3 linked regions of the Homo sapiens genome follow. The protein of the gene in region 1 interacts with the protein of each later gene in a biochemical or structural test. Each region holds a gene or a part of one and is shown on either strand. Other genes may lie near its edges. The genes, in order: RRM2, USP12 and RRM1.

Region 1 (8,281 bases):
TTTTAGAGGTTATCTGAGCACGAAGAAAATCATTAATCCCAAAGGCTCTGCACTGTGCTGGCTGCCTCATCCTCACCATCTCCTGAAAATGGCCTCTCAGTGGCTGAAGCTCTCCAATGCGAATGTTCTAGACACAAATGATGTGGTGACACTCACATCAGCATCAAACAGCTCCATCTGGTTGTCCACCCTGCTTCCTGCTTAACCATTTCCTGCTGACTTCTGAGTGAGTGACACATAAACTAACTACAAAGTTGAACTGGGCTGCTCCTGAGACTTGTGGTTGTGGTGCTGCTGTGCTGTGCTACATTAAGAATGTTGGGCTGGGCGCAAGGGCTCATGCCTGTCATCCCAGCACTTTGGGAGGCCGAGGTAGAAGGATAGCTTGAGCCCAGGAGTTTGAGCCCAGCCTGGGCAATATCGTGAGACCTCATCTATATATATATATATATAAATATACGTAATTGGCAGTTCATATTAAAACAAAGTTTTTGAGAGTCTGGAATTCTGGAGTTAGTCAGACCTGGGTTCAAATCCTAGCTATATTATCACGTATGAAGTCTTCTTGCCAATAACTTTTAGCCTTAGGCTAATAACGATCCCCCGCCGGACTTTTTTTTTTTTTTTTGAGACGGAATTTCATTCTTGTTGCCCAGGTTGGAGTGCAATGGTGTGATCTCGGCTCACTGAAACCTCTGCCTCCTGGGTTCAAATGATTCTCCTGCCTCAGCCTCCCAAGTAGCGGGAACCCAAGTAGCGGGAATTACAGGCGCCTGCTGCCACGTCTGGCTAATTTTTGTATTTTTAGTAGAGATGGGGTTTCCCTATATTGACCAGGCTGCTCTCAAACTCCTGACCTCAGGTGATCTGCCTGCCTCACCCTCCCAAAGTGCTGGGATTACAGGCGTGAACCTCCAAGCAGGGCCTAATAAAGCCTTTTGACCTAACTTCCAGTGTAGAGTACAGGGGTCAGGAAAACAAGTTCATTGACACTGTGAATAAACAATTAGGCAAATGTAGAATGTGGGACATTCTACAAGAAAACTGGCCTGTACTTCAAAGTCAATGTCGTGGGGAAAAGAAGTGGAGGAGCTTTACTAAGAGTCTAAAGCAACATAATAAACGCAATGCATGTGATTAATTAGATACTGCACAAAAAAATAAATCCAAAAAACTATGAGACATTTTTGAAACAATTGGAAAAACAGGAATATGGACTGGATATTAGGTTATATTAGAGAATTATTGTTAGTTTTCCTAGGGATAAATGTGGTATTGTGGTGATATTAACAGAGTGTCCTAATTTTTAGGAGCTGAAACGTTTAGGGGTGATGGGTTATGATATCTATCACTCACTTTCAAATGATCCATAAAAAAGCATAAGCCTCATACACCCACAGAGGGGGTGTCTGCCACATTTGCCATGAAGCAAATATGGCAAAATGGAAACAGCTGTTGAATCCTAGCTGGTGGGTGAACACTAGGAATCCTTCCATTATTCTGTATGTTGAAAACATTCATAGTAAAAAGCTAGGCTAAAAACGTTCTGCTGTGCAGTTGTGCTGTGCGACCTTGGGCAGTTTCCTTGCCTCCCAGGCCTTCATTTCATCACCTATGAAAAGGGTTAAAAATACCAACCCCGGTGGGGCGGTGGCTCACGCCTGTAATCTGAGCATTTTGGGAGGCCAAGGCGGGTGGATGGCTTGAGCCCAGGGGTTCAAGACCAGCCCGGGTAACATACCGAGAACCCATCTCTACAAAAAATTAAAAAATTAGCCTGGCGTAGTGGTGCCTGCCTTGAGTCCCAGCTACTCGGGAGGCTGAGGTGGGAGGATCGCTTGAGCTCGGATAGTTGAGGCTGCAGTGAGCTATCATGGAGCCACCAGACTGGGCAACAGAGCAAGACCCTGTCTCAAAACAAAAAACAAAAAACTCAAACAGCCTCACATGATCCAGGCGCCCAGAGGCTGTGGGTGCTGCAGCCTTAATTATTATTATGACCACCTTCGGCACGGCGTCTGGTACACAGTGAGTGCTGAGCTCCCCGAGCCGCGGTTTCTCCACCCTAATGGTGAACAGCCTTTTGGAAGTCGCGCTAACCTTGGCCTGAGACCTGCAAACTTGCCCAGGCTGGGGCGTGTGAACCGGCGAGCGCGCAGCGGAAACGGGGCGGGGCACCTGAGGCTGGGAATGCAGAGGAGCCTTCCGGGGGGCGGGGCGGGGCCTCCCGTGCAGACCAATGGTGGAGTAGATGCAGATGTCAAAACGCGCGCTCAAGTGGCTTCCGCCAGGAATCCCGACGCTTAGGGAGGCGGAGGGAGGATCGCTTGAGACCAGCCTGGGCAAACAAGCGAGACCCTCGTCTGTTTACTTAAATAAAACCAAAAAAACGAGCACCGAGGGAAAAAGGAGTGAATCCCGGGGCTAGCAGCAGCCTGCGGCGGGCGCTCTCCCGGGAGTGGCTGCACCGCCCGACCTCCCCGGAGGCGGAACCGCCCGCATTGCCGCGTGGCCCTGGGCGCCGCCACCTCCTCCGCAGCGGGGCAAAGTTGCCGGACCTGGGGGCAGGAGGGCCACGCCGAGATGACTCAGGTTTAGCGCGGGAGGGGAGGATGGCGACTTCACCCGGCCTTTAACAACACGTACGCATCTTTCGGCGTCTTCTACAATGGCTATGTTAATTACGTGGCCAGGAACTAAACTATCAATGAAGCCACCTCTGACTACTTCAGTTACAGTGAGTTTAACAGGAGCAAAAAAGCACGTGGCGCCCTAGGGCAACCGAAACGAGGGTTTTAGACGCTGATTATGGGAAATTGAAATCTGAGTTGAGTATGAGATGACACCAATAAATTATAATTTTGTTAGATAATAGCTTTATCAGCCATAAAGTAATCAATAAAAATACCAGTTTCCTGGAGATGGATGCTTTAGTGTGTTTGGGGTGAAAATGGCGATGAATGGCGAGTTGCTTTAAACAAATCATGGTACACCAAAGTTTTAGTTGTGGCTTTGTGTAAGGAATGTGATGGGCACTTATTCCTGCAACACGAGAATACTATGATTTACAAGTCCGTAGTACTTTTAAGAAATGAGAGAAACAGACCTAGGTGGGGAGGGTACCTGTCCCACCCCACCCTCTTTAAAGTATCTTATCTAGAAAAGGCTTTGTGAAAAAAAAAGTCCCGGGTCTCTCTCAATAACAGCCCTGAGCGCAGCTGTTGAAGCTTTCTCAGGTTAATGATTTCTTTCTTGGATCTTAAAGTTTCTTTCTCTTCCTTTATTTTTGGCATTTTGCCCGTTGCAGGGCCTGGCAAATCAGAAAGCCACATAGAAAATTAAATGAAAGCTATTGCTAAGTTCCAGTCTCTACACCAGTGGAGTTTTCAAACTCCTCTTCAGCATATTTGACGCCCAATGAGTAGTACATTAATTCCTAGTCCTAAAATCATTCTGTGAACTTTCTCCCAGGAATTTTTGCTCAGTTTGCAATTAAAACAACTTTTTTTCTTCTCTTTTTAATGGCAGAGGCGGGGTCTCACTATGTTGCCCAGGATGGTCTCCAGCTCCTGGCCTCAAACAATCCTCCTGCCTTGGCCTCCCAAAGTGCTGGGATTACAGGCGTGAGCCACCGCGCCCAGCCACAGTTTGCAATTCTTAAGGCAAGGGTGACAATAGGGGTCAGGGGTCTGACAGGAGACAGGATTTCTGTGGAAAACTGCACCAAGGGCCTTCTCGCCATGTCCCGTAGTTTGAAGGTTTACAAAGGACTGCACATTTTACATGAGTCATCTCAACGAACGCTCTCCTCACCGCATTAACAGTCCACGCGGTTACGAGTCCCATTTTACTCACGGGGACACCGAATCTGTAAGAAGCCTGGTCGCTTGTCCCAGCAAAACGAGCCACGGGGCTCAGCGGCCCTAACTTTTAGGCTGTAGGGTCCTCGCCGACCACCCCGCCAAAATGTCAGGCCTCGGGGCCCTTGCACCCCCACCGCAGGGACACGGATCGAAAGGGTCGCAGCAACGCCTCCCCCGCACCCAGGAGCGTTTTCCAGGCCTTTGCACCAACCTCGTTGGCTAAGCCCCCTGCCCGGCGGCGGCCCGGCTGGGAGGAGGTGCTTTCGGGAGGCGGGGCCGCGGCCCGGGGATCCTCTCGCGCCCGCGGGCTCCAATCGCTGCTCCTCACGCAATCCTAAACGGTTCCCGGGCGAACCGGGGCCCGCGCGCGCCAAGGCCGCCGAGACCCTCAGGGGCTGCGGCCCTGGTCCCGCGGGACCTGTGGGGGCCTGGGCGGCGGCGCCCCCGACCCAGCCAGCGGACGGGCCGGGGGGGGAACCGGGAGGTCCCGGGGGGCGTCCACGGGGGTGTCCCCGGGGGTCTCCGGAAGGCGCCGGCGGAGGCTCCCGCGCTGCGCTTGAAAATCGCGCGCGGCCCCGCGGCCAGCCTGGGTAGGGGCAAGGCGCAGCCAATGGGAAGGGTCGGAGGCATGGCACAGCCAATGGGAAGGGCCGGGGCACCAAAGCCAATGGGAAGGGCCGGGAGCGCGCGGCGCGGGAGATTTAAAGGCTGCTGGAGTGAGGGGTCGCCCGTGCACCCTGTCCCAGCCGTCCTGTCCTGGCTGCTCGCTCTGCTTCGCTGCGCCTCCACTATGCTCTCCCTCCGTGTCCCGCTCGCGCCCATCACGGACCCGCAGCAGCTGCAGCTCTCGCCGCTGAAGGGGCTCAGCTTGGTCGACAAGGAGAACACGGTGAGCCCGCGGGGAGGGCGCTGCGGGCAGGGGAGGGAGGCAGGGAAAGCGAAGCCGCTCCTCACTCACACGCGTCTCCCCGCAGCCGCCGGCCCTGAGCGGGACCCGCGTCCTGGCCAGCAAGACCGCGAGGAGGATCTTCCAGGAGCCCACGGAGCCGGTGAGTGGCGGGCGTGGGGCAGAGGGGCCAGGGACGGCCTTGGGCGTCTTGGCGCCAAAGCCGCATTGTTTCCTCAGCTGTTCACACTCCCGCCCCGGCTCCTTTCCCGCCTAGGCGGCCCCTCCCCAGGGCTGCCTCCCGCGCCCCTCGGCCCATTTCCCGGTTCGGGCGTGCGCTCCTCTGCTGCGACCCACGGAGTGCGACGGGACAGCCACGTTTTCACATCGGGCCCCGTGAAATTGCCGCCAATGGAAAGGACTTGGTCCAGAAAAACGTTAGTTTCATATGGTTCGCCCGGTACTTAAATGTTTTATTTTCTCCCCCAACAGAAAACTAAAGCAGCTGCCCCCGGCGTGGAGGATGAGCCGCTGCTGAGAGAAAACCCCCGCCGCTTTGTCATCTTCCCCATCGAGTACCATGATATCTGGCAGATGTATAAGAAGGCAGAGGCTTCCTTTTGGACCGCCGAGGAGGTAATCGGAGGACCCCAGAAGACCCCTGCAGGGGTGACCGTCACGCCTCAGACATAAATGCACTTGGAGGTTCCCGTTGGCAAGGGGGGCTAACTGTGGGGCATAGTAAGTGGTGCCAGCATACTTAAAGTTTGAGTGCTCAGTGTGAGTCCTGTAGGCTTTACTCTCTTCCTTTTATGCTAAAATTGTGACTTCCGAACCTCAGGTGGACCTCTCCAAGGACATTCAGCACTGGGAATCCCTGAAACCCGAGGAGAGATATTTTATATCCCATGTTCTGGCTTTCTTTGCAGCAAGCGATGGCATAGTAAATGAAAACTTGGTGAGTTTCCAAAACATCTTTCATTCATTTGACGTTGACGATCTGAGGTCGAACTAGTTCGCTTTCCTCGTCTTGTATGTTTTTCCATGCTGAGTGCATCTGTGTGTGTAAGCTGGGTTTTATATTACATGGCATTTCCTGTTTTGTAACACTTTGCAGTTCTTTCTTATGGTATTTTCCCGACTCTAGAGAAGCTGAGACAATATTAAGTGGTAGCAATGTGATGACTCTTTGTGGCCACCACATCTGCCCCCTCTTTTTTTTTTTTTTTTTGAGACAGAGTCTCACTCTGGCCCAGGCTGGAGTGCAGTGGTGTGATCTTGGCTCACTGCAACCTCCGCCTCCTGGGTTCAAGCGATTCCCCAACCTCAGCCTCATGAGTACCTGGGATTACAGACGTGCGCCACCATGCCTAGCTAATATCTGTATTTTTAGTAGAGACAGGGTTTTACCATGTTGGCCAGGCTGGTCTCGAACTGCTGACCTCAGGTGATCCACCCACCTTGGCCTCCCAAAGTGTTGGGATTACAGGCGTGAGCCACCACGCCCGGCTCTGCTCCCTCCTTTTTGTGGCTTTGCTGTTTTAATAATAATTTGGTTGTATCTCTTATTGCGAATGGATCTTTCTTGACATAAATTAATTAGGAAATCGAGCGCTCACAAATCCTATTTTATATGTATCTATTTCCTGATATGTAAGTTGAGCATATGACATAAAATATCAAAGAATTGTGACAAATTGGATGAAATATATATAGAAATAAACCTTATAATGGTACAAAGAGTGCGATGCTGCCAGTATCCGTTGACAGTTGCTGCTGTTGGTTTTTTCTCAAGCTTAACTTTGATGTGTTTTGCCACTAGGTGGAGCGATTTAGCCAAGAAGTTCAGATTACAGAAGCCCGCTGTTTCTATGGCTTCCAAATTGCCATGGAAAACATACATTCTGAAATGTATAGTCTTCTTATTGACACTTACATAAAAGATCCCAAAGAAAGGTGAGTATTCAAGTGGTATGCCAAGATTTTTAGGACTCACTAATTGTTGATTTATTACACATTTTTAGTTCACCTAGGGATAAAAATGACTCCAGAATGACTAAGACAGTCATAGGCATTCCCAGCACCCGTGGTCATGTCTGCTCTTAGCAAGGGGCCTAAATGCACTTTATTATTCACTTAGAGTTGTGAAGGTACTCCTTTTAAAGTTGGATGTCTACCAATGTAAAACCTTCTTTTGAAAAAATTCCTAGATGTTGGGTAAGACAAACTAAAACCTATGTCTGACCATCTTTGCTCATTTGGTAAAGTTGTTGAGAAGCTAGAATGTGGGGCTGCAGTGGGATGGACGGGGAGGACTTGCCTCCTAAGAAGCCTGCAGTATAGTATAGGCAAATAAGACTTAGTAGGAGTTACATAAGGCAGAGGCAGCAGTGAACCCTGAGACTGATTTAGGCATGCAGGAGTTTGGCTGAATAAAGGTAGCTTAAGGTCTGTTTTGTTTTGGAGATTGGAGGTGGGGGGATTAGAAATGGGCTGCTGGAGTAGTCTAGATACAAAGGTCAGCTTTAGGGTGGCGCGCGGTGGTTCTCGCCTGTAATCCCAGCACTTTGGGAGGCTGAAGCGGGCGGACAATGAGGTCAGGAGATCGAGACCATCCTGGCTAACACGGTGAAACCCCGTCTCTACTAAAAATAAAAAAAGTGGTGGCGGGCGCCTGTAGTCCCAGCTGCTTGGGAGGCTGAGACAGGAGAATGGCGTGAACCCGGGAGGCGGAGCTTGCGCTCCAGCCTGGGTGACAGAGCAAGACTCCGTCTCAAAAAGCAAAACCAAGCAAAAAAAACAAAGGTCAGCTTTGGGGACCAGAACCTTGTATGGAGTGGAAGTGGTGAAGCTGCAACCTAAAGTAGCCGTTGTAGACTTTGAAGTACATGAAGAGGAAAAGTGGTAACTTGAAAGGACTGAGGAAACATTGGGAGTAAAGAGATTTGAACATGTTTATAGGTGGAAATTGAGAAAAGAAGGCAAAGATTAGGGGTACGATCGGGGGCAAATGCCCAGAAGGGGAACAGGAAGGTCTGCTGGGGAAGCCTCAAAAACAAGGGAGAGGCAGACCCAGGTCTCAGAGAGAGGGACAGTGAGATGGAAAGAATGAACGACAGCTGGGCATGGTAGTCTGAGCTAGTAGTCCCAGCTACTTGGCAGGCTGAGGCAGAAGGATGGCTTGAGCCCTGGAGTTTGGTTTTACCGTGAGCTGTGATCATCTCGCTGCACTCTAGCCTGGGCAACAGAGTGAGACCCTCATCTCTTTAAAAAAAAAAAAAAAAAAAAAAAAAAAAAAGCTGCCCAATGTCTGGTGCCCTTGGCTTCAGAACACAAAGTCATCTGGGTAGGAACAGTCTGGGAAATGAGTAGCCTCTCAAGGTGGGCACCAGAATAAAGGGAGGCAGAGGAGGGTGGTAAGGGAGATCCAGTTAACTGTAGTACCCATGGATTTGCTTTCCTGACCTGGGATCGACAGTGTAGCACAGAGTCCTAGTAGGAAGCAATCTTAGTTTATTGGTTTAATTATTTT
Region 2 (8,024 bases), on another chromosome or scaffold:
TTGGCCTCATTACCACCATGTTCTAATGGATCTAATCTCATGCCCTTGTAACCGAGGGTGGGCAAGCAGCCAGGCCAGTGCCACCCCATGATCTAACTCTACCCACCTCCTGCACCAACAACTTCTCCGTTGTCTGGTCCCCCTCCCAACAACGCCTTCCTAACCATGACTCCTACAACCCAAACAGGAAGAGACAATAATGATCAGAGGCAGAGCTAACATTTATGGAGCTAACAGTAAGTAGTGCCAGCTCCAAAGCAGGGGCTGTCCTGACCACTACTGCATGCCCATGACGGACCACCCGGATTAGCCACCTCAACTGCAAAACACAGCCTCTCTACATGTATTCTGTCACTTTTCCCGTTATTTCACACTTATTAAGTATAATATTAAATATCAGGTAGGCAGGTACTCCGTGCCAGGCCCTGAAGTCTGAAACTACTTCAAAGGCAAAATAAACACTATGTGATACTGAAAATGTATTATTTCATAGACAAATTAAAAACAGGTATTTCAAGAGGTACCCTTGAAAATGTACTCACTGCAATCTAAACATAATCACTCATTTGGTTCAGGCTATAATACTAACTTATGAAAAACAAGTTTTACTAATTTTCACATGTAAGCACAACACTAGTGATCTAAAATAAGACACAGCTGAAGAGAATTGTTTTTAACAGTTACTTAACCCAATTAAGGTATTGCAGATTTGCCCAGGTACGTTATTTTGACAAATGAAAAAATTATGTACACTTCAGTACTTATAGAATAAAATTTCAACTCATCCTAAATGTTTTCACAGCTGCTGATTCTGAGAAGTGTTCTGTTTAAGTCCAGCCCATCTTCTCTCCACCATTCCACACACACACAGCCACATCATCCCTGCTTCACCCGGCATACCAGGAGGAGGCAGGAAGGACTTTGGAAAACTTTTATACTGAATGCAGAACTTGGTACTCCAGATCAAACTGCAGAAGTAAATGATAATCCTTCCCCTTCAAGGCCCTCACAATTGAGTAAGAGTTCAAAGAAAAATTTACTGCACAGTAAGTATGATAAGTGCTACTGAGATTACAAAAATGCCATGAAACTGTATGAAGGGGATGGAGGGTCGGGTTGGACAGGGGTAGGATTATTCAAGTAAGGCTCCCTGCTTAAGAGACAGGCACACACACTCGCCAGACAAGAAGGATACGGGGTGTGGCAGGGAGGAGCGTTCCAAGCCTAGCAAAACAGCACCTACAAAGCCAAAGAGGTATCTTTGCTTTTCAATTTTGTGATTCTCAGAGGACAAATGGCAATTTTCTTTAAAGAATAAGACTGCAAATTACTTTGAGATATTCAGCACTATTTGGGGGTACATTCGAATGTATTCAAATATGAATACAGACACACCCAATTTTAATAGTACCTTTGGAACGATCTCATTTGGCCAGGCATTTTCTGTATTTGCCAACAATACACACGCCCCACATGTAATTAATGTATCTGGATGGAAGCCCTAGAAAGAGCTTCTGATTTGACATCCTTGGGATCAGAATCCCACTTACTAAGTGTGTGACCCTGGCAAATCCCTGTGTCTCACTGTCCTAATCTGATTACAGCATACATTTATTGTTTACCTGAATACTGTTTGTGTCCATGAGCAAGAATGTAAACACCAAGAAAACAGGGGCTGCCCTGACCAATACTGCATCCCCAGTACTCAGCGTCGCCTCTAGCACTTAGTGGCTGCTAAGTGTATACTTGATATACAGTACTTGAGTGAATGAACAGTCGGTAAAGAGTATCACACCACTCCTGAAATCTAGTCTTTGACAATGAACTATGACCCATACAATGTGTGTAGCTCAGCCATGTGGCAAAATTGTCACTGTAAAAGACCTAATTATCGCATTCCTTTTGAAATTGACTAAGATAATAATTGGCGTATCTAAAAATAATTAGCCCAAACAATTCTCCAAAATCATTTTAATATAGTCCATTTAATACAAATGCTTTCCTAAAATGTAAACTGTGAGAAAGAACAATCATCCAGTTGGGAAATGGAGTCTTCAATGATTCATCCTTCAATATGATTTCTTTAATACTGTCGATTTTATGTCCACCTGATTTCAGTCATTTTTTGTACTGTTCCTCAGCGTGTAGTAGAGAATCTGCTTTTTAAGGCATCTTTCAGATCTGATTCACCACTCCTTAAAGAAAAATATATACAATGTACCACCCTTAGATGGAAAATTTCTTGGGGATCTCCTATATGAAATCAGTTGCATAAATAGGGCCAGTGAGGCATGAAACACAAGATTTCAGAAGTCTCTAATAACAACCACTAGGCCCACGTTGCAAAGAACAACTTTTTTCGGTGATGACTCATAAATTATGATCCCTACATATAAGCTCATGAGGAACTAATGAAACGAATTTGTCTCATCATGTGGAAAACTGTGGTCCTTCTGGCCACGCACAAAACACCAAGTTTTAAACGCGCCCACGTTTTGCTTAATTCGGGACTTCCAGCGGGCATTAGCACTTTTCCCTTACAGTCTATTTAAACGCCCTAGGAAAACAAATACCATCGCCTTGGCAGGCGGTCCCCGCACAGACAGACCTAGCTCCAGCCACATACAGATGTGTCTGGTGGGCTGAAGTAAACAAATGACAGGAAAGCTAATGCTGCTTTTCAAGATTAACGTGCATTCCCAGAGACAAGACTGCCACCTGGACACACGGCTGGAAACGGGAGAGCTCGTGCCTCTCAGAGGAGAAAATGGAGAGAATTTCAACAGTACTTATTTAAAGTTTCCACCTTCACACACGCCCCTTTCCCCCAGCGCGGGGTCGGGGACTCGGCCCAGCCAGCGGCGCGAGGAAATCTGCACTTGACTTCCGTCCTCTCCCAGGCGGGAATGAGCGCTGCCCGCCCCGGCCGAGACCCTTCCTTCCTGCCCGCCGACCCCCACCCCTCCCGGGGACCCCTCCCGCTCGGCGCGCGACCAGAAGGAAATGGAGCCCGCGCGGCTCCGCGCCCCCTCCCCGACGACCCCGGCCCGGGGCCGCGCTCTGGCTCGCGCGCGCCCACCCCTCACCCCGGCACAGGCCGGGCGCGCCTCGGCCCTCGTCCCCGCGTCCCGAGCGGACCCCAGCAGTTCAGCCGGGGACTCCCGGAGGCCGGTGCCCGCCCGACGCCGCGTCTGGCACGGTCGCCCACTCACCGCTACCCTCGCGCCGCCCTGGCCCACCAGGCGGCGCCCCCTCCCCAGCCGCCTGGGCCGCTCACCCCCGCGCTCCCCGCCTGCGCGCCGTCCAACCGCCCCCGCCCGGGCCGCCCGGGCCGCCCAGCCCGCCCGCCCGCCCCGGCGCTAGGCCCCGCGAGCGGCCACTGGGAGAGGCGGGTCCAGCGCCGCCCGCCCGCCCGAGAGGTCCCGGCAGCCCCGGCCGCCCGCTCGCCGCCACCTACCATGGTACAGATGGAGGCGAATTTGGAGACTGTCATTAGGATTTCCATCCGGCCAGCGCCATCTTCCACCCAATCACAGCGGCGGCGGCGGGCGGGGGAGGAGGGGAGCCGGGCCGCCCGCTCGCACCGCAGCCCGCGGGCGGACCCCGAGCCGCCGCGGACCCAACCACCGAGCCCGCTGGGCCGCCGCTGCCGTCGTCGCCGCCGGCGCTCAGGCACTCCCGGCCTCGGGCCCCAGCCCCCGCCTGCCGGCCGCCGGCCCGCCCCCGGCTCCGCCCCGGCGCAGGGCGCAGCCGCTGCCTCCGGGCCCGCGCCTGCACGCGAAGCCGCCCTCCGCCCACCCCGCCCAGCGCACAGGGGAGCGGGCTCCGCCGAGGCCCTAATGCCCGGCCTGCCAGGCAGCGGCGCGGCCAGGCGGCGCAGCCCCGCCCACCCCTCGGCAACCCCTCCGCGGCCCTTGTGCGCGAGCCGGGGAACTCCGGTCCGTCCCCACCCCGCGCGCGGCAGAGGGCAGGACCGAAGGCGGGCGCCACCTCCTGCCCGCGTCCCTGCGGTCCTAGAGCCGGGGACCCAGAGACCCCCGCGTAGGAAGGGGTGCGGCGGGGAGGCGCGGGGGTGGCGGCGGCGATCTGGGAGAACCCTGGAGGGGACCAGCTGCGACACCCACCGCGGGCGAGGGGACGGCGAGCCCCCGCTGCCTAAACAGAAAACGGAGGCGATGATCTGGGTAACTACGGGCGGAGTGGGAGGAAACCTGCTCTGCACAGTTAAGATAACCCGGGTATGCGTCCCAAGCACTTGGTTTGTTTCTTTTTACGTATATTGGATGAATCACCGGAGTCAAACACAACTTAGAAAAAGACAAAATAATTAAACAAAAATGAAGAGGCAAAGAACAAATTACACATGTTTAACTCTTTGAATTAAGAAGAAAGATAAGTAATGGGGGAAGGAGAGGAGCGAAACCTGTTGGCCTGTTGGCGATAAATTTATAATAGGCTTCTAAATATCTGCACATTGAGCTGCAAAATAGGGAGGATCTCAAGCCAGCAGTGATGATGATATTACCAGAGACAGGAAGCCCGCAAGCAAGAAAAATGCCCTGTGAGAAATCCTTAGGCAGTGCTGGCTACTGGCATGGGTAGTTCCTCTTTCTCCTTTTATAAAATTCATATTTGCACCCTGTTCTTCATGCCTGGCAGCTCAGCTTTATTTTTTCCTATTTGAGAAAGTAGTTCAAGTGAGTAGAATAACTTCATAAATTATTATGTTAGAAAGCTTGTGATATTTTCTGATTGAACTCGTGATGGGGTACTTTTCTGGGTTCCCCTAATTCAGTGGGGTTGAGGATCTGAATTCAGGCAGAGCTGTAAAATCAGAAATGCCTCACCTCAAGGGTTCAAAGCACTCAAAAACAAAAAGCATTCAAACAAAATTTAAGTGAAAAATAGACTTCTGGTACATGAATACTGTTTCCATAGTGATTCCATTATAAGCTTGCTTGGGGGGGGAATGCAGATTGAATATAGCCAAGCCCCATGGTAGCCGGACTGGATCTCCAAGCGCCTGCCTCCATGGAAGCCAAGAGCCCTGATACCCCAGCCAGGGGCTTTCCTCTCTATACTTGCAAGCATCACCCACCTGAATTCTTTCTTGCTCTTTTCTACCCCCTGTTTGGACAAGGGTTTCTACATCTTAGACCTCTAGGGCCTACCTGGGCCTTGTCCGAGTGTCACCATGCCCATCTGTGTGCCCGTCCTGATAAATAGCTGTGGTCATCCTGTCCTTCCCACTTGCTGTTCTATTCCAGCAAACAGGTCTGATGTGCCAGAATTTTAGACCTGCCTCCATCCCGCTAACCACCCATATGCCTCCTTGTCCATTAATCCGAACATGTCACAGGAACAAAAGCCACTGGCTTTACATATAAGTTTATATAAGAACAAGGCCTTTCTAAAATGAATTTCTAGGCTGAGTATGGTGGCTCACACCTGTAATTCCAGCACTTTGGGAGGCCGAGGCAGGTGGATCACTTGAGGTCAGGAGTTGGAGACCAGCCTGGCCAACGTGGTGAAATCCCGTCTCTACTAAAATACAAAAATTAGCCAGGCGTAGCAGTGTACGCCTGTAATCCCAGCTACTCAGGAGGCTGAGGCATAAGAATAGATTGGATCCTGGAGGTGGAGATTGCAGTGAACTGGGATTGTGCCATTGCACCCCAGCCTGGGTGACAGAGTGAGACTCTCTCAAAAATAAATAAATAAATAAATTTCTAGGCTGGGCACAGTGGATCAGGCCTGTAATCCCAGCACTTTGGGAGGCTGAGGCAGGAGGATGGCTTCCAACTTCCTTGAGACCAGGGAGTTCAAGACCAGCCTGGGCAACATAGTGAGACCTTGTCTCTACTAAAAATAAAAATAAATACGTGGTGCATGGTGGCGCATACCTATAGTCCCAGCTACTTGTGAGGCGAAGTAAGAGGATAACTTAAGCCCGAGATATCCAGGTTGCAGTGAGCCATGATTGAACCACTGCACTGTAGCCTGAGCGACAGACTGAAACAGTATCTCAAAAATACAGCACAGTGGCTCTCGCCTGTTGTAATCCCAGCACTTTGGGAGGCCAAGGCGGGCGGATCACTTGAGGTCAGGAGTTTGAGACCAACCTGGCCAACATGGAGAAAGCCCATCTCTACTAAAACTACAAAAATTAGTTGGGCATGGTGGCGAGCACCTGTAATCCAAGCTACTAGGGAGGCTGAGGCAGGAGAGTCGCATGAACCTGGGAAAAACCAGTGAGCCGAGATCATGCTACTGCACTCCAGCTTGGGCGACAGAGTAAGATTCCGTCTCAAAAATTAAATTAAATTAAATTTTAAAAAGTAAAATGGATTTCTGATAGAATTATCTGGAGTCATGTCTAGTTGATGTTGGAGCCATCTAAATTCACAGGTAAAGTCATGAAACCTAATCACAGAGCCTCACAATGCCTTGTCTCCACAGCCTATGGTCGATTGGAGAGACACAAACATAAAAGAGACATTCTTGAATCTATGTGCTAGGTGTTGTACTGAGTGTTCTTTACCATATGTAATGCAGTTGGAGAATAAGTTTGGCTGAAACTCCACACTTTTGCACCCTGAGCTTGGAAAGGGTAATCTGGCTTTAGAACACAGCTTTACACAGCTGTGTAATCAGCTTTACAAAGAGCTTCCCTGTGCCTAGCAAAAGATGAGTTTGTGTACAACTGACTCCTTTTCGGCCTTCTTGAATATGCAAACTACAAAATATGCCCAGATGCCTCAGGGACCAGGCAAGTAAATGAACTATGTCCAACCTTAATCCATTTAGTCAGCACAGCATTTTATAATGTTTTCATTTGCATACTGTTACACAATCCTACACTCTCCAGTTCCTTACAGTCTGCCTCAAATTTTCCTTTACTCATTCTGTTCAACAGTTTAACACAAGTCACTTTATTATATAGTTCTGCTACCTCTTTTCTCCCTGAAGGCATGTGGGTTTATACCAGCTCACATAAATGATTCGTGAAGCTTTGCTTGTGATGGGTTGGGAAAGAAAGTGATGGGGAGTGGTCCAAGAAGGGGTGTAAACATTTTATCTAATCCTTGCAACAACCTAATGAAGCAGGTGTTACGATTATCCCCACGTTTAGATAAGGAAACCAAGGCACAGAGATAACTTTTCCAGGGTTGCACAACTAACTAGTAAGCAATGGAACCAAGGTTTGAACCTAGCTCCAGGAGCCACACCTGTGTCCACTCCACTACACTAGCTTTGTAAAAGTATTTTATTTTGATTCTGACAGGATGAGGTTGAGAGGCACGACTCCTTTCGGACTTGCATGAAGGTTTAAGCTACAAAAAAAAAATACTCAAATCGATATTTCTTTGTTTCACTTTCCTCATCTGGAAAATAAGGGTAATAATTATGTTACAACGATAAAACATGTTTCAAATAGTGCCTGGCGCTCAACACAAAATGGAAAGTTTAGAATGGACATTCAAAGTCAACATTTTAAAAGTTGGGGGGCCGTGCGCAGTGGCTCATGCCTGTAATCCCAGCACTTTGGGAGGCCGAGGCAGGCAGATCACGAGGTCAGGACATCAAGACCATCCTGGCTAACCCGGTGAAACCCCTTCTCTACTAAAAAATACAAAAAATTAGCCGGGCATGGTGGCGGGCGCCTGTAGTCCCAGCTACTCGGGAGGCTGAGGCAGGAGAATGGCGTGAACCTGGATGGCAGAGCTTGCAGTGAGCCAAGGTCGCGCCACTGCACTCCAGCCTGGGCAACCGAGCGAGACTCCGTCTCAAAAAAAAAAAAATTTAAAAAAAAAAAAAGTTGGGGTGGGCAAATACAGCCCTCGGGCTGCCAGCTTGCTCCTCCAGATTTAATGAGCCTCTGCTATGTGCCAGCCACCTGCTTAGTACTTCAGATACATATTCCAATGTAACCCTTACGATGACCTTACAGATCCATCATTTCATACTTATTTTACACACAGGGGAATATGACATTCATCATTGCACTAACCAGCACATACAGG
Region 3 (8,363 bases), on another chromosome or scaffold:
TTCCTAGCACAAAGAGGTGCTGAATAAATGCTTTATGAATAACTGAATGAATGGCCTCTACTGCCTATACTTTACCTATCAGAGTATTTATCATATTTTATCATATTACTTCTTTATTTGTCTATCTTTCTCAATTGATTGTAGGATCTTTGGAAGCTGGAACCATGTCTGCCTACTCATCACTGCAATCCCGGTGAACAGCACGGTATCCACAGAGTTGTAAAATAATATTAGCAGGCTGTGAATGGAATAGGAAGGAAGGAAGGAAGGAAGGAGGAAGGGACGGAGGGAGGGGGAGAGGGAGGGGAGGGAGGGAGGAGGGCAGGAAAGAAGGGAGGGAGAAAGGAAGGAAGGAAGCAAGGAGGGAGGGAAGGAAGGGAGGGAGGAAGAAAGGGAGGAAGGAAGGGAGGGAGGGAGGCAGGGATAGGGAAAGAATCTGGAATAAAAGAAAGATTAGAGTGCAAATGGATGCTTTCAAAGACATTATTTCGTAAACTTTTGTATCATTTTATGTGTATCCACATATATACACATGTCTGTAAAATGTTTTGTTTTTTACTGTGAGTTACAATCCAAAGTTTTGAAAATACTACACTAAATTCCAAAACAGTTTACAACTCAGTTAGCTACTTTGTCATTTACTGCAATGGTTCTCAATGTTTATTTTTTTAACCATAATCTCCTTGAGGAATGATACTCTCCCATTAGGAAAAATAGCTCAAGATAGCAGATGAAAAAAACTCATCTACTATTCTCTTCTATCTAATAATTTTCATATGGATTGTTCCTAAATCCCTAACAATTTTAAGTTCTTTGAAGATAGAGCTGCCTTCTCCATTACTGCCCTCACAGTGTTTAGCAAGACATTAGCATATTCAGTAGGTACTTCAAAGTCAACTTCCAGTTGCCCTTGTTATTAAAAATAACAAAAACTAGCCAGGCGTGGTGGCACACATCTGTAGTCCCAGCTACTGAGGAGGCTGAGGCAGGAGAATCTCTTGAACCCAGGAGGCAGACACTGCAGTGAGCTGAGATCACACCACTGCACTCCAGCCTGGATGACAGAGCAAGACCCCATCTCAAAGAAAATTAACAAAAACTGTAGGAGTTAGTCTGCTATTCCACTGACATGCCAAAAATAAGGGGGTACAAAAAAAGTCCAGAAAACCAAAAACCCTATGCATATTAAAAAACATTAAAATATAGAAACATAGAAATATAAAAAAAAAAAGAAACAAACAAATCTAAGTACATGTTGTATATTAAGTCTTGCTGAATGCTACAATGGCAGAATCTACAGCATGAACCATCTGGATCAAATTGTGCTCTATGAAGGAATGAGAAAATAAGCTCTGCTTTTTAGAGCTAGTTATAGCTAGCACTTTGTGGTTTTTTTTTTTTTTTTTTTTTTTGAGACAGAGTGTCACTCTGTCGCCTAGACTGGAGTGCAATGGCACGATTTCAGCAACCTCTGCCTCCCAGGCTCAAGCGATTCTCCTGCCTCAGCCTCCTGAGTAGCTGGGATTACAGGTGCAAACCACTACCGTCCGGCTAACTTTTGTGTTTTTAGTAGAGACGGGGTTCCACCATGTTGGCCCAGCTGGTCTCAAACTCCACACCTCAAATGATCCACCCACCTCAGCCTCCCAAAGTGCTGGGATTACAGGCGTGAGCCACCATGCCCTGCCACGCCAGGCCAAGGTAGCACTTTTTAAACGAAAGTATTTAGAAGTAGACTCTAAAAGTTCAAAATTCAACACAGGGTTGAATTTTACCCATTCTGGTCATCTAAGTCCATACATTTTCAATTCATCTTTGTTACTGACTTATCATAGACCATCCTAAACATCTCTCCCATATCTAAAGATTTAAAAAATAGATGCTCAAGCCAGGTGCGGTGGCTCCCAGCACTGTAATCCAAGCACTTTGGGAGGCTGAAGTGGGAAGAATGCTTGAGCCCAGGAGTTCAAGACAAGCCTGGGCAACATAGCGAGACTCCTTCTCTAAAAAAATACAAATAAATAATAATGTAAAAAAATAAAAATACAAAAATAGATGCTCAGCTCTCACTCTTATGAATGGATCAATAAAAGTGCACTATGTTATTTTGCTCTTTGGTCAGCTAAAATGTGAGCTAGGAAAATTCACAGAATGATGTTCTCAAGATACCAAAAACAAGAAAGGCCACTACTGTCCACCTTTCCAACTCTTGTCTGTAGTTAAACCAATCTGGACATTGGCTGTAGTTAAACCAAATCAACTACCTGCTTATTCACAGCATTCATCGTGTCCTACATTTTGATACAACTATTTTCATTCATTCTTTAAGAATCTGTTCATGTCAGGTCCTGTGCTAAACGTGAACAGAAAAGTCTCCATCTTGCTTGTATTCCCAGCACTTTGGGAAGCCAAGGAAGGGAGGATGGTTTGAGGCCAGGAATTCAAGGCCAGACTGGGAAACACAGCAAGACTCCTTTACTACCAGAAATTTTTAAAAATTAGCCACTCATGGTGGTGCATGCCTATAGTCCCAGCTACTTGAGAGGCTGAGGCAAGAGCATCGCTTGAGCCCAGGACTTCAAGGTTACAGTAAGCTATGATTACACCACTGCATTCCATCCTGGGTGACAGAGCAAGACTCTGTCTCAAACAAGTCTCCATCTTTGAAATGTTCACAGCCTAGAGGACAAAATAGAAACAACCAGTCGATTAACCAGTATTTACTAAGTGCCTACAATTTTGAAATCATTGTATTGCTTTAACAAAGGCAAGTAGGTTCAACTCAAAACTTGTTCATACGTATCTCATGCGGTTGTTAAAAGTATGTTGCTCTTGTTTTTCCAACCCGATGAAGCCTGTTCCCAAGGCAGGGACTGTCTCCTCCTACAATCTCACAAAGCCAAGCAAAGGGCTGGGCACAAAGCGGGCACTTGGCAAGTCTAATGAAAAAGAACTGTTGAGAAAGAATACGAGTTCCTGACTCTTCCCAGTCCCCATCTTGTCAGAAGATGTCTCAGCCACCCTTCTCTGATTCAGCATCTCTTCCCATGAAGGGAAAGGAACTCGAGGGTGCTGTCTGTCTGGGATCTGTTTTTTCCACGCCACACTCCTATCCTCACCCCACAAAAGAGATCAGTAAACTGACAAGTGCCTACGGAGGGTAGAGAGGCCCCCTCCTTCTTTCCTAGCTGCCCCCCGACCCTGTGCCTAAGACAGCTCACCAACCCCACGGTTTTCAAATCAAACCGTATTGTCACCTATGGGTGACTTTGGGTCAGTCGGCGACACCTCGCTCTGAGCGTCAGTTTCCTCATCTGTAATAAGCTAATCATCTCTCAGAGGCTTGCAGGGAGGAATAAAATAGTGCCTGGCAAGTGCTCGGCGTACGCAGTCACTACTCGATACGGGGTAAGTGTTATCCTTTTGAAAGGCGGCAGGATGACAAAGCCGAGGGGGCGCAGCCTGAAGGCCCGAAGGAGGTTCGGGGCAGGCTGACTGAAGACAGAAGGCCGAGCGGGCTGACAGGGCGGAAGGCCGCGGCGGGAAATGCGGGAAAGGCGGGAAGCAGCGAAGGCGGGCGGGCGGTCTGGGCATCAGCTCCGGCGGCGGCAGCCCGCATCCCCTCACCTTCCTTCTCGCCCACCTCGTCCCCCCCTCACCTCGCTTGATCACATGCATCGCAGCTAGTGGCTGAGGCTCTGAAGGATCCAAGACTGGACTGCGGCTCTAAAGCGCCGGCGGGATCGAGAAGGTGACAGAGTGGGAAGGGTTAGGTTCCAGGCGCTGCTCAGGGGAAAGAACTGGAGTTGGAGCCAGACAGCACTTTCTTCAGAGCAGAGGCGCAACAATCCAAATCCCCTTCCCGCGCCCGCCACCCGTGACGCACAAAGGGGCGCGACGGGGTTCGAATGACGTTACTCGACGCTGCGGCCCACGCCCGGGGTAGGCTTCACAGACTGACAGGCGACGTGTAGCCGCCATGTTGAGTCTGGGCAAGACCCAGAAGACTACGCCTCTCCCATGGGCCCCATTGGATATGGACATGCCCGGCGGAAATGCTGCTCTCCTGCTACCATGTTTTGTGTGGGCAAGCCGAGTTCGGGACCCTCGGGGCCCTGGCGTAGCACCTAGAGCCCGCTGGGTCAGGCGCCGCCCTCTCACCTGCGCGTCTCCGCCGGAGGAAAGGCGGTTAATTTATTTTTGAAATAACAAAACCTAACCGGCGGGAACGTTTTTCTTGCTCTGACATTTATTATAATAATACTAACACTGCCGTCCGCTGTGGGCTCCAGCCCAGGCTCCACAGCCGTGGGCAGCTTGGAGCCCCAGGGCTTTTAGATCGGCCAGAGGACTGACACTCTGGAACTGGAAGAAAACCGCGCAAGGCCGATGGCGTTTGGATTTTATCCTGACGCAAATCAGAGCCCTGAGAGAATTTTAAGCAGGGCAGGGTCAGTACCCATTTGCTTTTAGGGTTCTTCAGTGGATGGTGGCAGAGACAGGGTATTTGCCTTGTGGAGGTAGGATGGACTTGGTGACTTAGAGTGGAGAATAAGAATAGATGAGAACCGTAATATGTAAGGCTGGTGTAGAAGCTTCTGATTTGGGCTACCCAAAGCGATCTTTATGAAATTTCATCTGTGGCATCTTTTCCCTAAAGCCTTTTCGTTGGTTTCTCACTGCCCTCCAGAAGCTGCCCAGGCTCCCTGTGAAGTAATTTCAAAAATCATGGAAAGTCGTAAGTGAGCCTGTAATTGCAGCATTTTGGGAGGCTAAGGCGGGAGCATCATGTGAGGCCAGGTGTTGAGATAAGCCTGGGCAACATAGTGAGACCCCATTTCTACAAAAAATAGAAAAAGTAGGCCAGCGCGGTGCTTCACTCCTGTAATCCCAGCACTATGGGAGGCCAAGGCGGGCAGATCACGAGGTCAGGAGTTCGAGACCAGCCTAACCAACGTGGTGAAACCCCCCCGCTGCTAAAAATACAAAAAGTAGCCAGGCATGGTAGCACGCGCCTGTAATCCCAGCTACTCAGGAGGCTGAGGCAGAAGAATCGCTTGAACGCTGGAGGCAGAGGTTGCAGTGAGCCAAGATCGCGCCATTGCACCCTAGCCTAGGCAAGAGAGTGAGACGCCGTCTCAAAAAAAACAAAAAAAAAGAAAGAAAAATTAAATAGATATGTTTTTTAAAAGTCGTAAGTGAAGTTATAGGATAGATAGGGTCAAGTTTACCCAGACATAGGGTTTCCCAATTTAGCAAATAAAAATGTGTCCCAGATACTGCATGAGAGAAAATTATACTTTAAAAACTGTTTATCTGAAATTCACATTTAACTGGTCATCCTGCATTTATCTGGTAACCCTGCCCACAGAGCTTCTGGGCATGTGCATTCAAGTTTCATTTTCCCTGGGCAAAGGAAAGATTGTCTCTTTATCCCATCATGCCACAGCACAGAGAACACAATGAGAGTCAAAGCCAGCAGTGGTTAAAATCTCCTACATGCTTTATTGGACTTCAAAGAATTTTATGAAATAACACAGAAAACCCCATTTGAGGGTGTCCAGGGAGTACAAGGCAGTCTGCAGCCTAGCACCCTCCTAAGACCAGCCCCAGGTATACCCACCCCAGGCCCAAAATAGGATCCCAGGATAAAGGTATGGCAGGGAGTGGGGCAGAGGAAAAATACCTTTACAGCCATAGCAAAAACAGGTAAGGGAGAGAGTTGTCTAGAGGGTGGGAAGGGTGGGGGAAAGTGGTCACACAGCCGCCTTCACCTATACCATCTTCCTTAGCCACCCCTTCCCCAAACTGGTTGTGTCCTTTTTGAGCCTCTGGCCAAGGCTACAAAGTAACATGAAAATGGGATCTAACAAGGGGAATATGCAGCGTAGGCACTTGGGAAATTCAGATTACTTTTTTTCCTTTTAACCTGTTTGTCTTTTGGTTCAAAAAATGACAGCATCCTTGCCCAACAACTCCAGGGCTCCATAAGAGCCCTGTATCATGGCTGTGGCTCTCCTGGCCAGGGGAGCCACTTGTCCTGAGCCCTAGGAGTATTGATGCTTGGGGAGCTTTGGGGCAGCACCTCTTAGAGACAAATCCTCCTGCAGTGTGGGGGAGCAGGGGTAAGAGGGAGGCAGGTGTGGGTGGGAGTAGAGAGAAAAAGTGACTGCCTTATAACCTACAGTTCTGGCATCCACTCATGCTCCAATGAACAGATGCCTCTCCCAACCCATTCCCAAGCCTGGCCTCTCTTTAAAAGTCTCTGGTGGGTTGTTCTCTGAGAATTGGTTTCACTCCCCCATGGATCCCTGGAGGCCTGAGTGAGATTAGGATGAGGCTCCTTCTGACCCACATCAATACCAAAGAACAAACTTCAAAGATTAGGCCCTAGCCCCAGTCTGGAGCAAACAGAACCACTGTGAGTGGGGTGGAACAGATCTGAGGCACACATGTCAGAAGCTACTCGTCCTATCTTCCCTGCAACTGCTAGGGGAAGTTGGGGAGTGGTGGGAGGGAGGAGCCCGAAAGCAAGAGACAGAAACAAGAAACCAAACCTCAAAACTGGGACAGCAGAGACAGAAGCTGAACCCCAGAGGTGGAGCTGGGAGCTGAGGGAACAGCAACTAAGACATGCACTGAAGTGGAGAGGGAGTGACAGCAGCAGCCCATGGTTGGGACGGAGGCAGGGCAGGCAGGCCATGGTGGTCAGTTAATAAATAATAATGAAGGACCCAAGGATGAGGGGGCAGGTATGTACAGTGCCCAGACCCCTGGACCAGCCCTTCCCATGCCCCACTCTTGGGGCCAGTTATCTTGAAGGAAGGGAGGGAAGGAGAGACAGAACACCCAGGGAAGGACAAGCTGTCCCTTTACTGCCACCCCATCCTGCCTACTTCTTAAGAGGCTTCTTAAAGATTTTGAGGGGAAACTTCTTCCGGCCTGGGCTGGAGTCTGTTTCCTCGCCAATAGAGCCATTATCCTCCTCAGCCACAGCCTTCTTGCCAGCCAGGTGGGGAATGCGTGTGTTTCGGCTGGCTTGCAGGGCTCGGCTGTCCCCAACTGGAGATGGTGTGTCTGGGTCTGGGGAGCTGGGGCTGTGAGAACGGGAAGAATCCAAATGTGGAGAGCCACCAGGTGGGGCTGAGGGGCTCAGCTCCATCAGGCTGTGGGCCTTGTCCAGCCCATGGTTCAGCGCCAGTAATGCCTTCTTGGCCAGGGCAGGGCTGTCAGGCAGTTTCTCCACCAGAGACCCTGGGTGGACCCCCTCGATCAGCCGGTGGCTGCCATTGGAAGTCATGGCATTGAGAGCCTCGTCTGCAGCACGGCTCATCTGAGGAGGTTTGGGGGCCACACGCTGGCGGTCACTCATGTGGAGGGAGGACTCCGAATCGGAATGGGTCAAATCCCTGCAAGACATGGGGCAGAGAGGAAGAAAGGGACATATATTGGATGAGGTGATAGGGGAAAGGCGAAGAGGAGAGAGGGACAACACGAGAAGACAAGGACAGGGTAGGAAAATGGGGATAGAGCGGCAGGAGAGAGAAATAGGATGAACAGGCAGGTGGGAAGGAGAGAGGAAAGAGGAATAGACAGAAGTTGAGCAGCCATAAGTATAGGATAAGAGAGGAGGCAGGAGGAGGGAATGAGGATAGATTGGAAAAGAGACAGGAAAAGGAGAGTAGAATTGTAGAGGAAGAAAAGCAAAAGGATAAGCAGGTAGAAAGAAGGGCCAAGAGAGAAAGACAAGAAAGGGAAAAGTGATAGGGAGGGAAGAAACAGATAAGAAACAAAAACAAATGTCATCATACCATCATCTGTCTGGCAAATGGTTTTCCAATACCTGGGCCCCACCAGTGGTGAATGCTCTGGCTCTGAACTGGTGCAGCCATAGGCTTAAATTCCACAGGCGGCATCCTCAATAAAATCTCTGCCTTCTCATAGCTGGCTGTATTTCCTGGGACTCAAGCTAACACAGAACCTACAGCCTGCTCCGAGTCACCATTTTCCATGCCTTCCTTCCCCACTTACTCCTGTCACACCTTAGGATATTATCCAGTCTGGGCCAGGCCCCAAGGAACAGGGCACATGCAGTCAGTGGACCTGACCCAGGCTGGAGATGAGAAGGTTAGAACAGCCTTGCAAATAATCCTTCACCCACCCCAAAAGGCCAGGATGCTGCCTCTTCTAACCATCTCATAGGATTCAAAGGAGGTCATAGATAGGTATTGCAGAGTTCAAACCAAAGTCTGTGGTGCGGCAGGAAGGGTGGGGTCTCTTTCAGAACTCTGCTGACGGAGAATGTAGGGAGGCATAGAAAGACAGGATGTTGGCCTTTAAAGAGCAGTGGTTCAGAAGAGGTC

What was found.
Region 2: of the proteins of RRM2 (region 1) and USP12, one has a biochemical effect on the other in vitro, tested with the Homo sapiens proteins (one study listed by BioGRID).
Region 3: the proteins of RRM2 (region 1) and RRM1 form a complex in vitro, tested with the Homo sapiens proteins (3 studies listed by BioGRID and IntAct).

Annotation. Positions count from the first base shown.
Region 1 is NC_000002.12:10,118,146-10,126,426, forward strand, and holds the start of RRM2 (ribonucleoside-diphosphate reductase subunit M2), read left to right. Parts: upstream 1-4,653; coding exon 4,654-4,752; intron 4,753-4,837; coding exon 4,838-4,912; intron 4,913-5,241; coding exon 5,242-5,385; intron 5,386-5,590; coding exon 5,591-5,707; intron 5,708-6,571; coding exon 6,572-6,705; intron 6,706-8,281. UniProt on the Homo sapiens protein: Provides the precursors necessary for DNA synthesis. Catalyzes the biosynthesis of deoxyribonucleotides from the corresponding ribonucleotides. Inhibits Wnt signaling.
Region 2 is NC_000013.11:27,168,135-27,176,158, forward strand, and holds the start of USP12 (ubiquitin carboxyl-terminal hydrolase 12), read right to left. Parts: upstream 3,678-8,024; 5' UTR 3,506-3,677; coding exon 3,458-3,505; intron 1,002-3,457; exon of another isoform or gene 803-1,001; intron 1-802. UniProt on the Homo sapiens protein: Deubiquitinating enzyme that plays various roles in the regulation of the immune response and inflammation.
Region 3 is NC_000011.10:4,090,328-4,098,690, reverse strand, and holds the start of RRM1 (ribonucleoside-diphosphate reductase large subunit), read right to left. Parts: upstream 3,893-8,363; 5' UTR 3,679-3,892; coding exon 3,660-3,678; intron 1-3,659. Other genes in the region: STIM1 (stromal interaction molecule 1 isoform 1 precursor), read right to left, coding at 6,893-7,409. UniProt on the Homo sapiens protein: Provides the precursors necessary for DNA synthesis. Catalyzes the biosynthesis of deoxyribonucleotides from the corresponding ribonucleotides.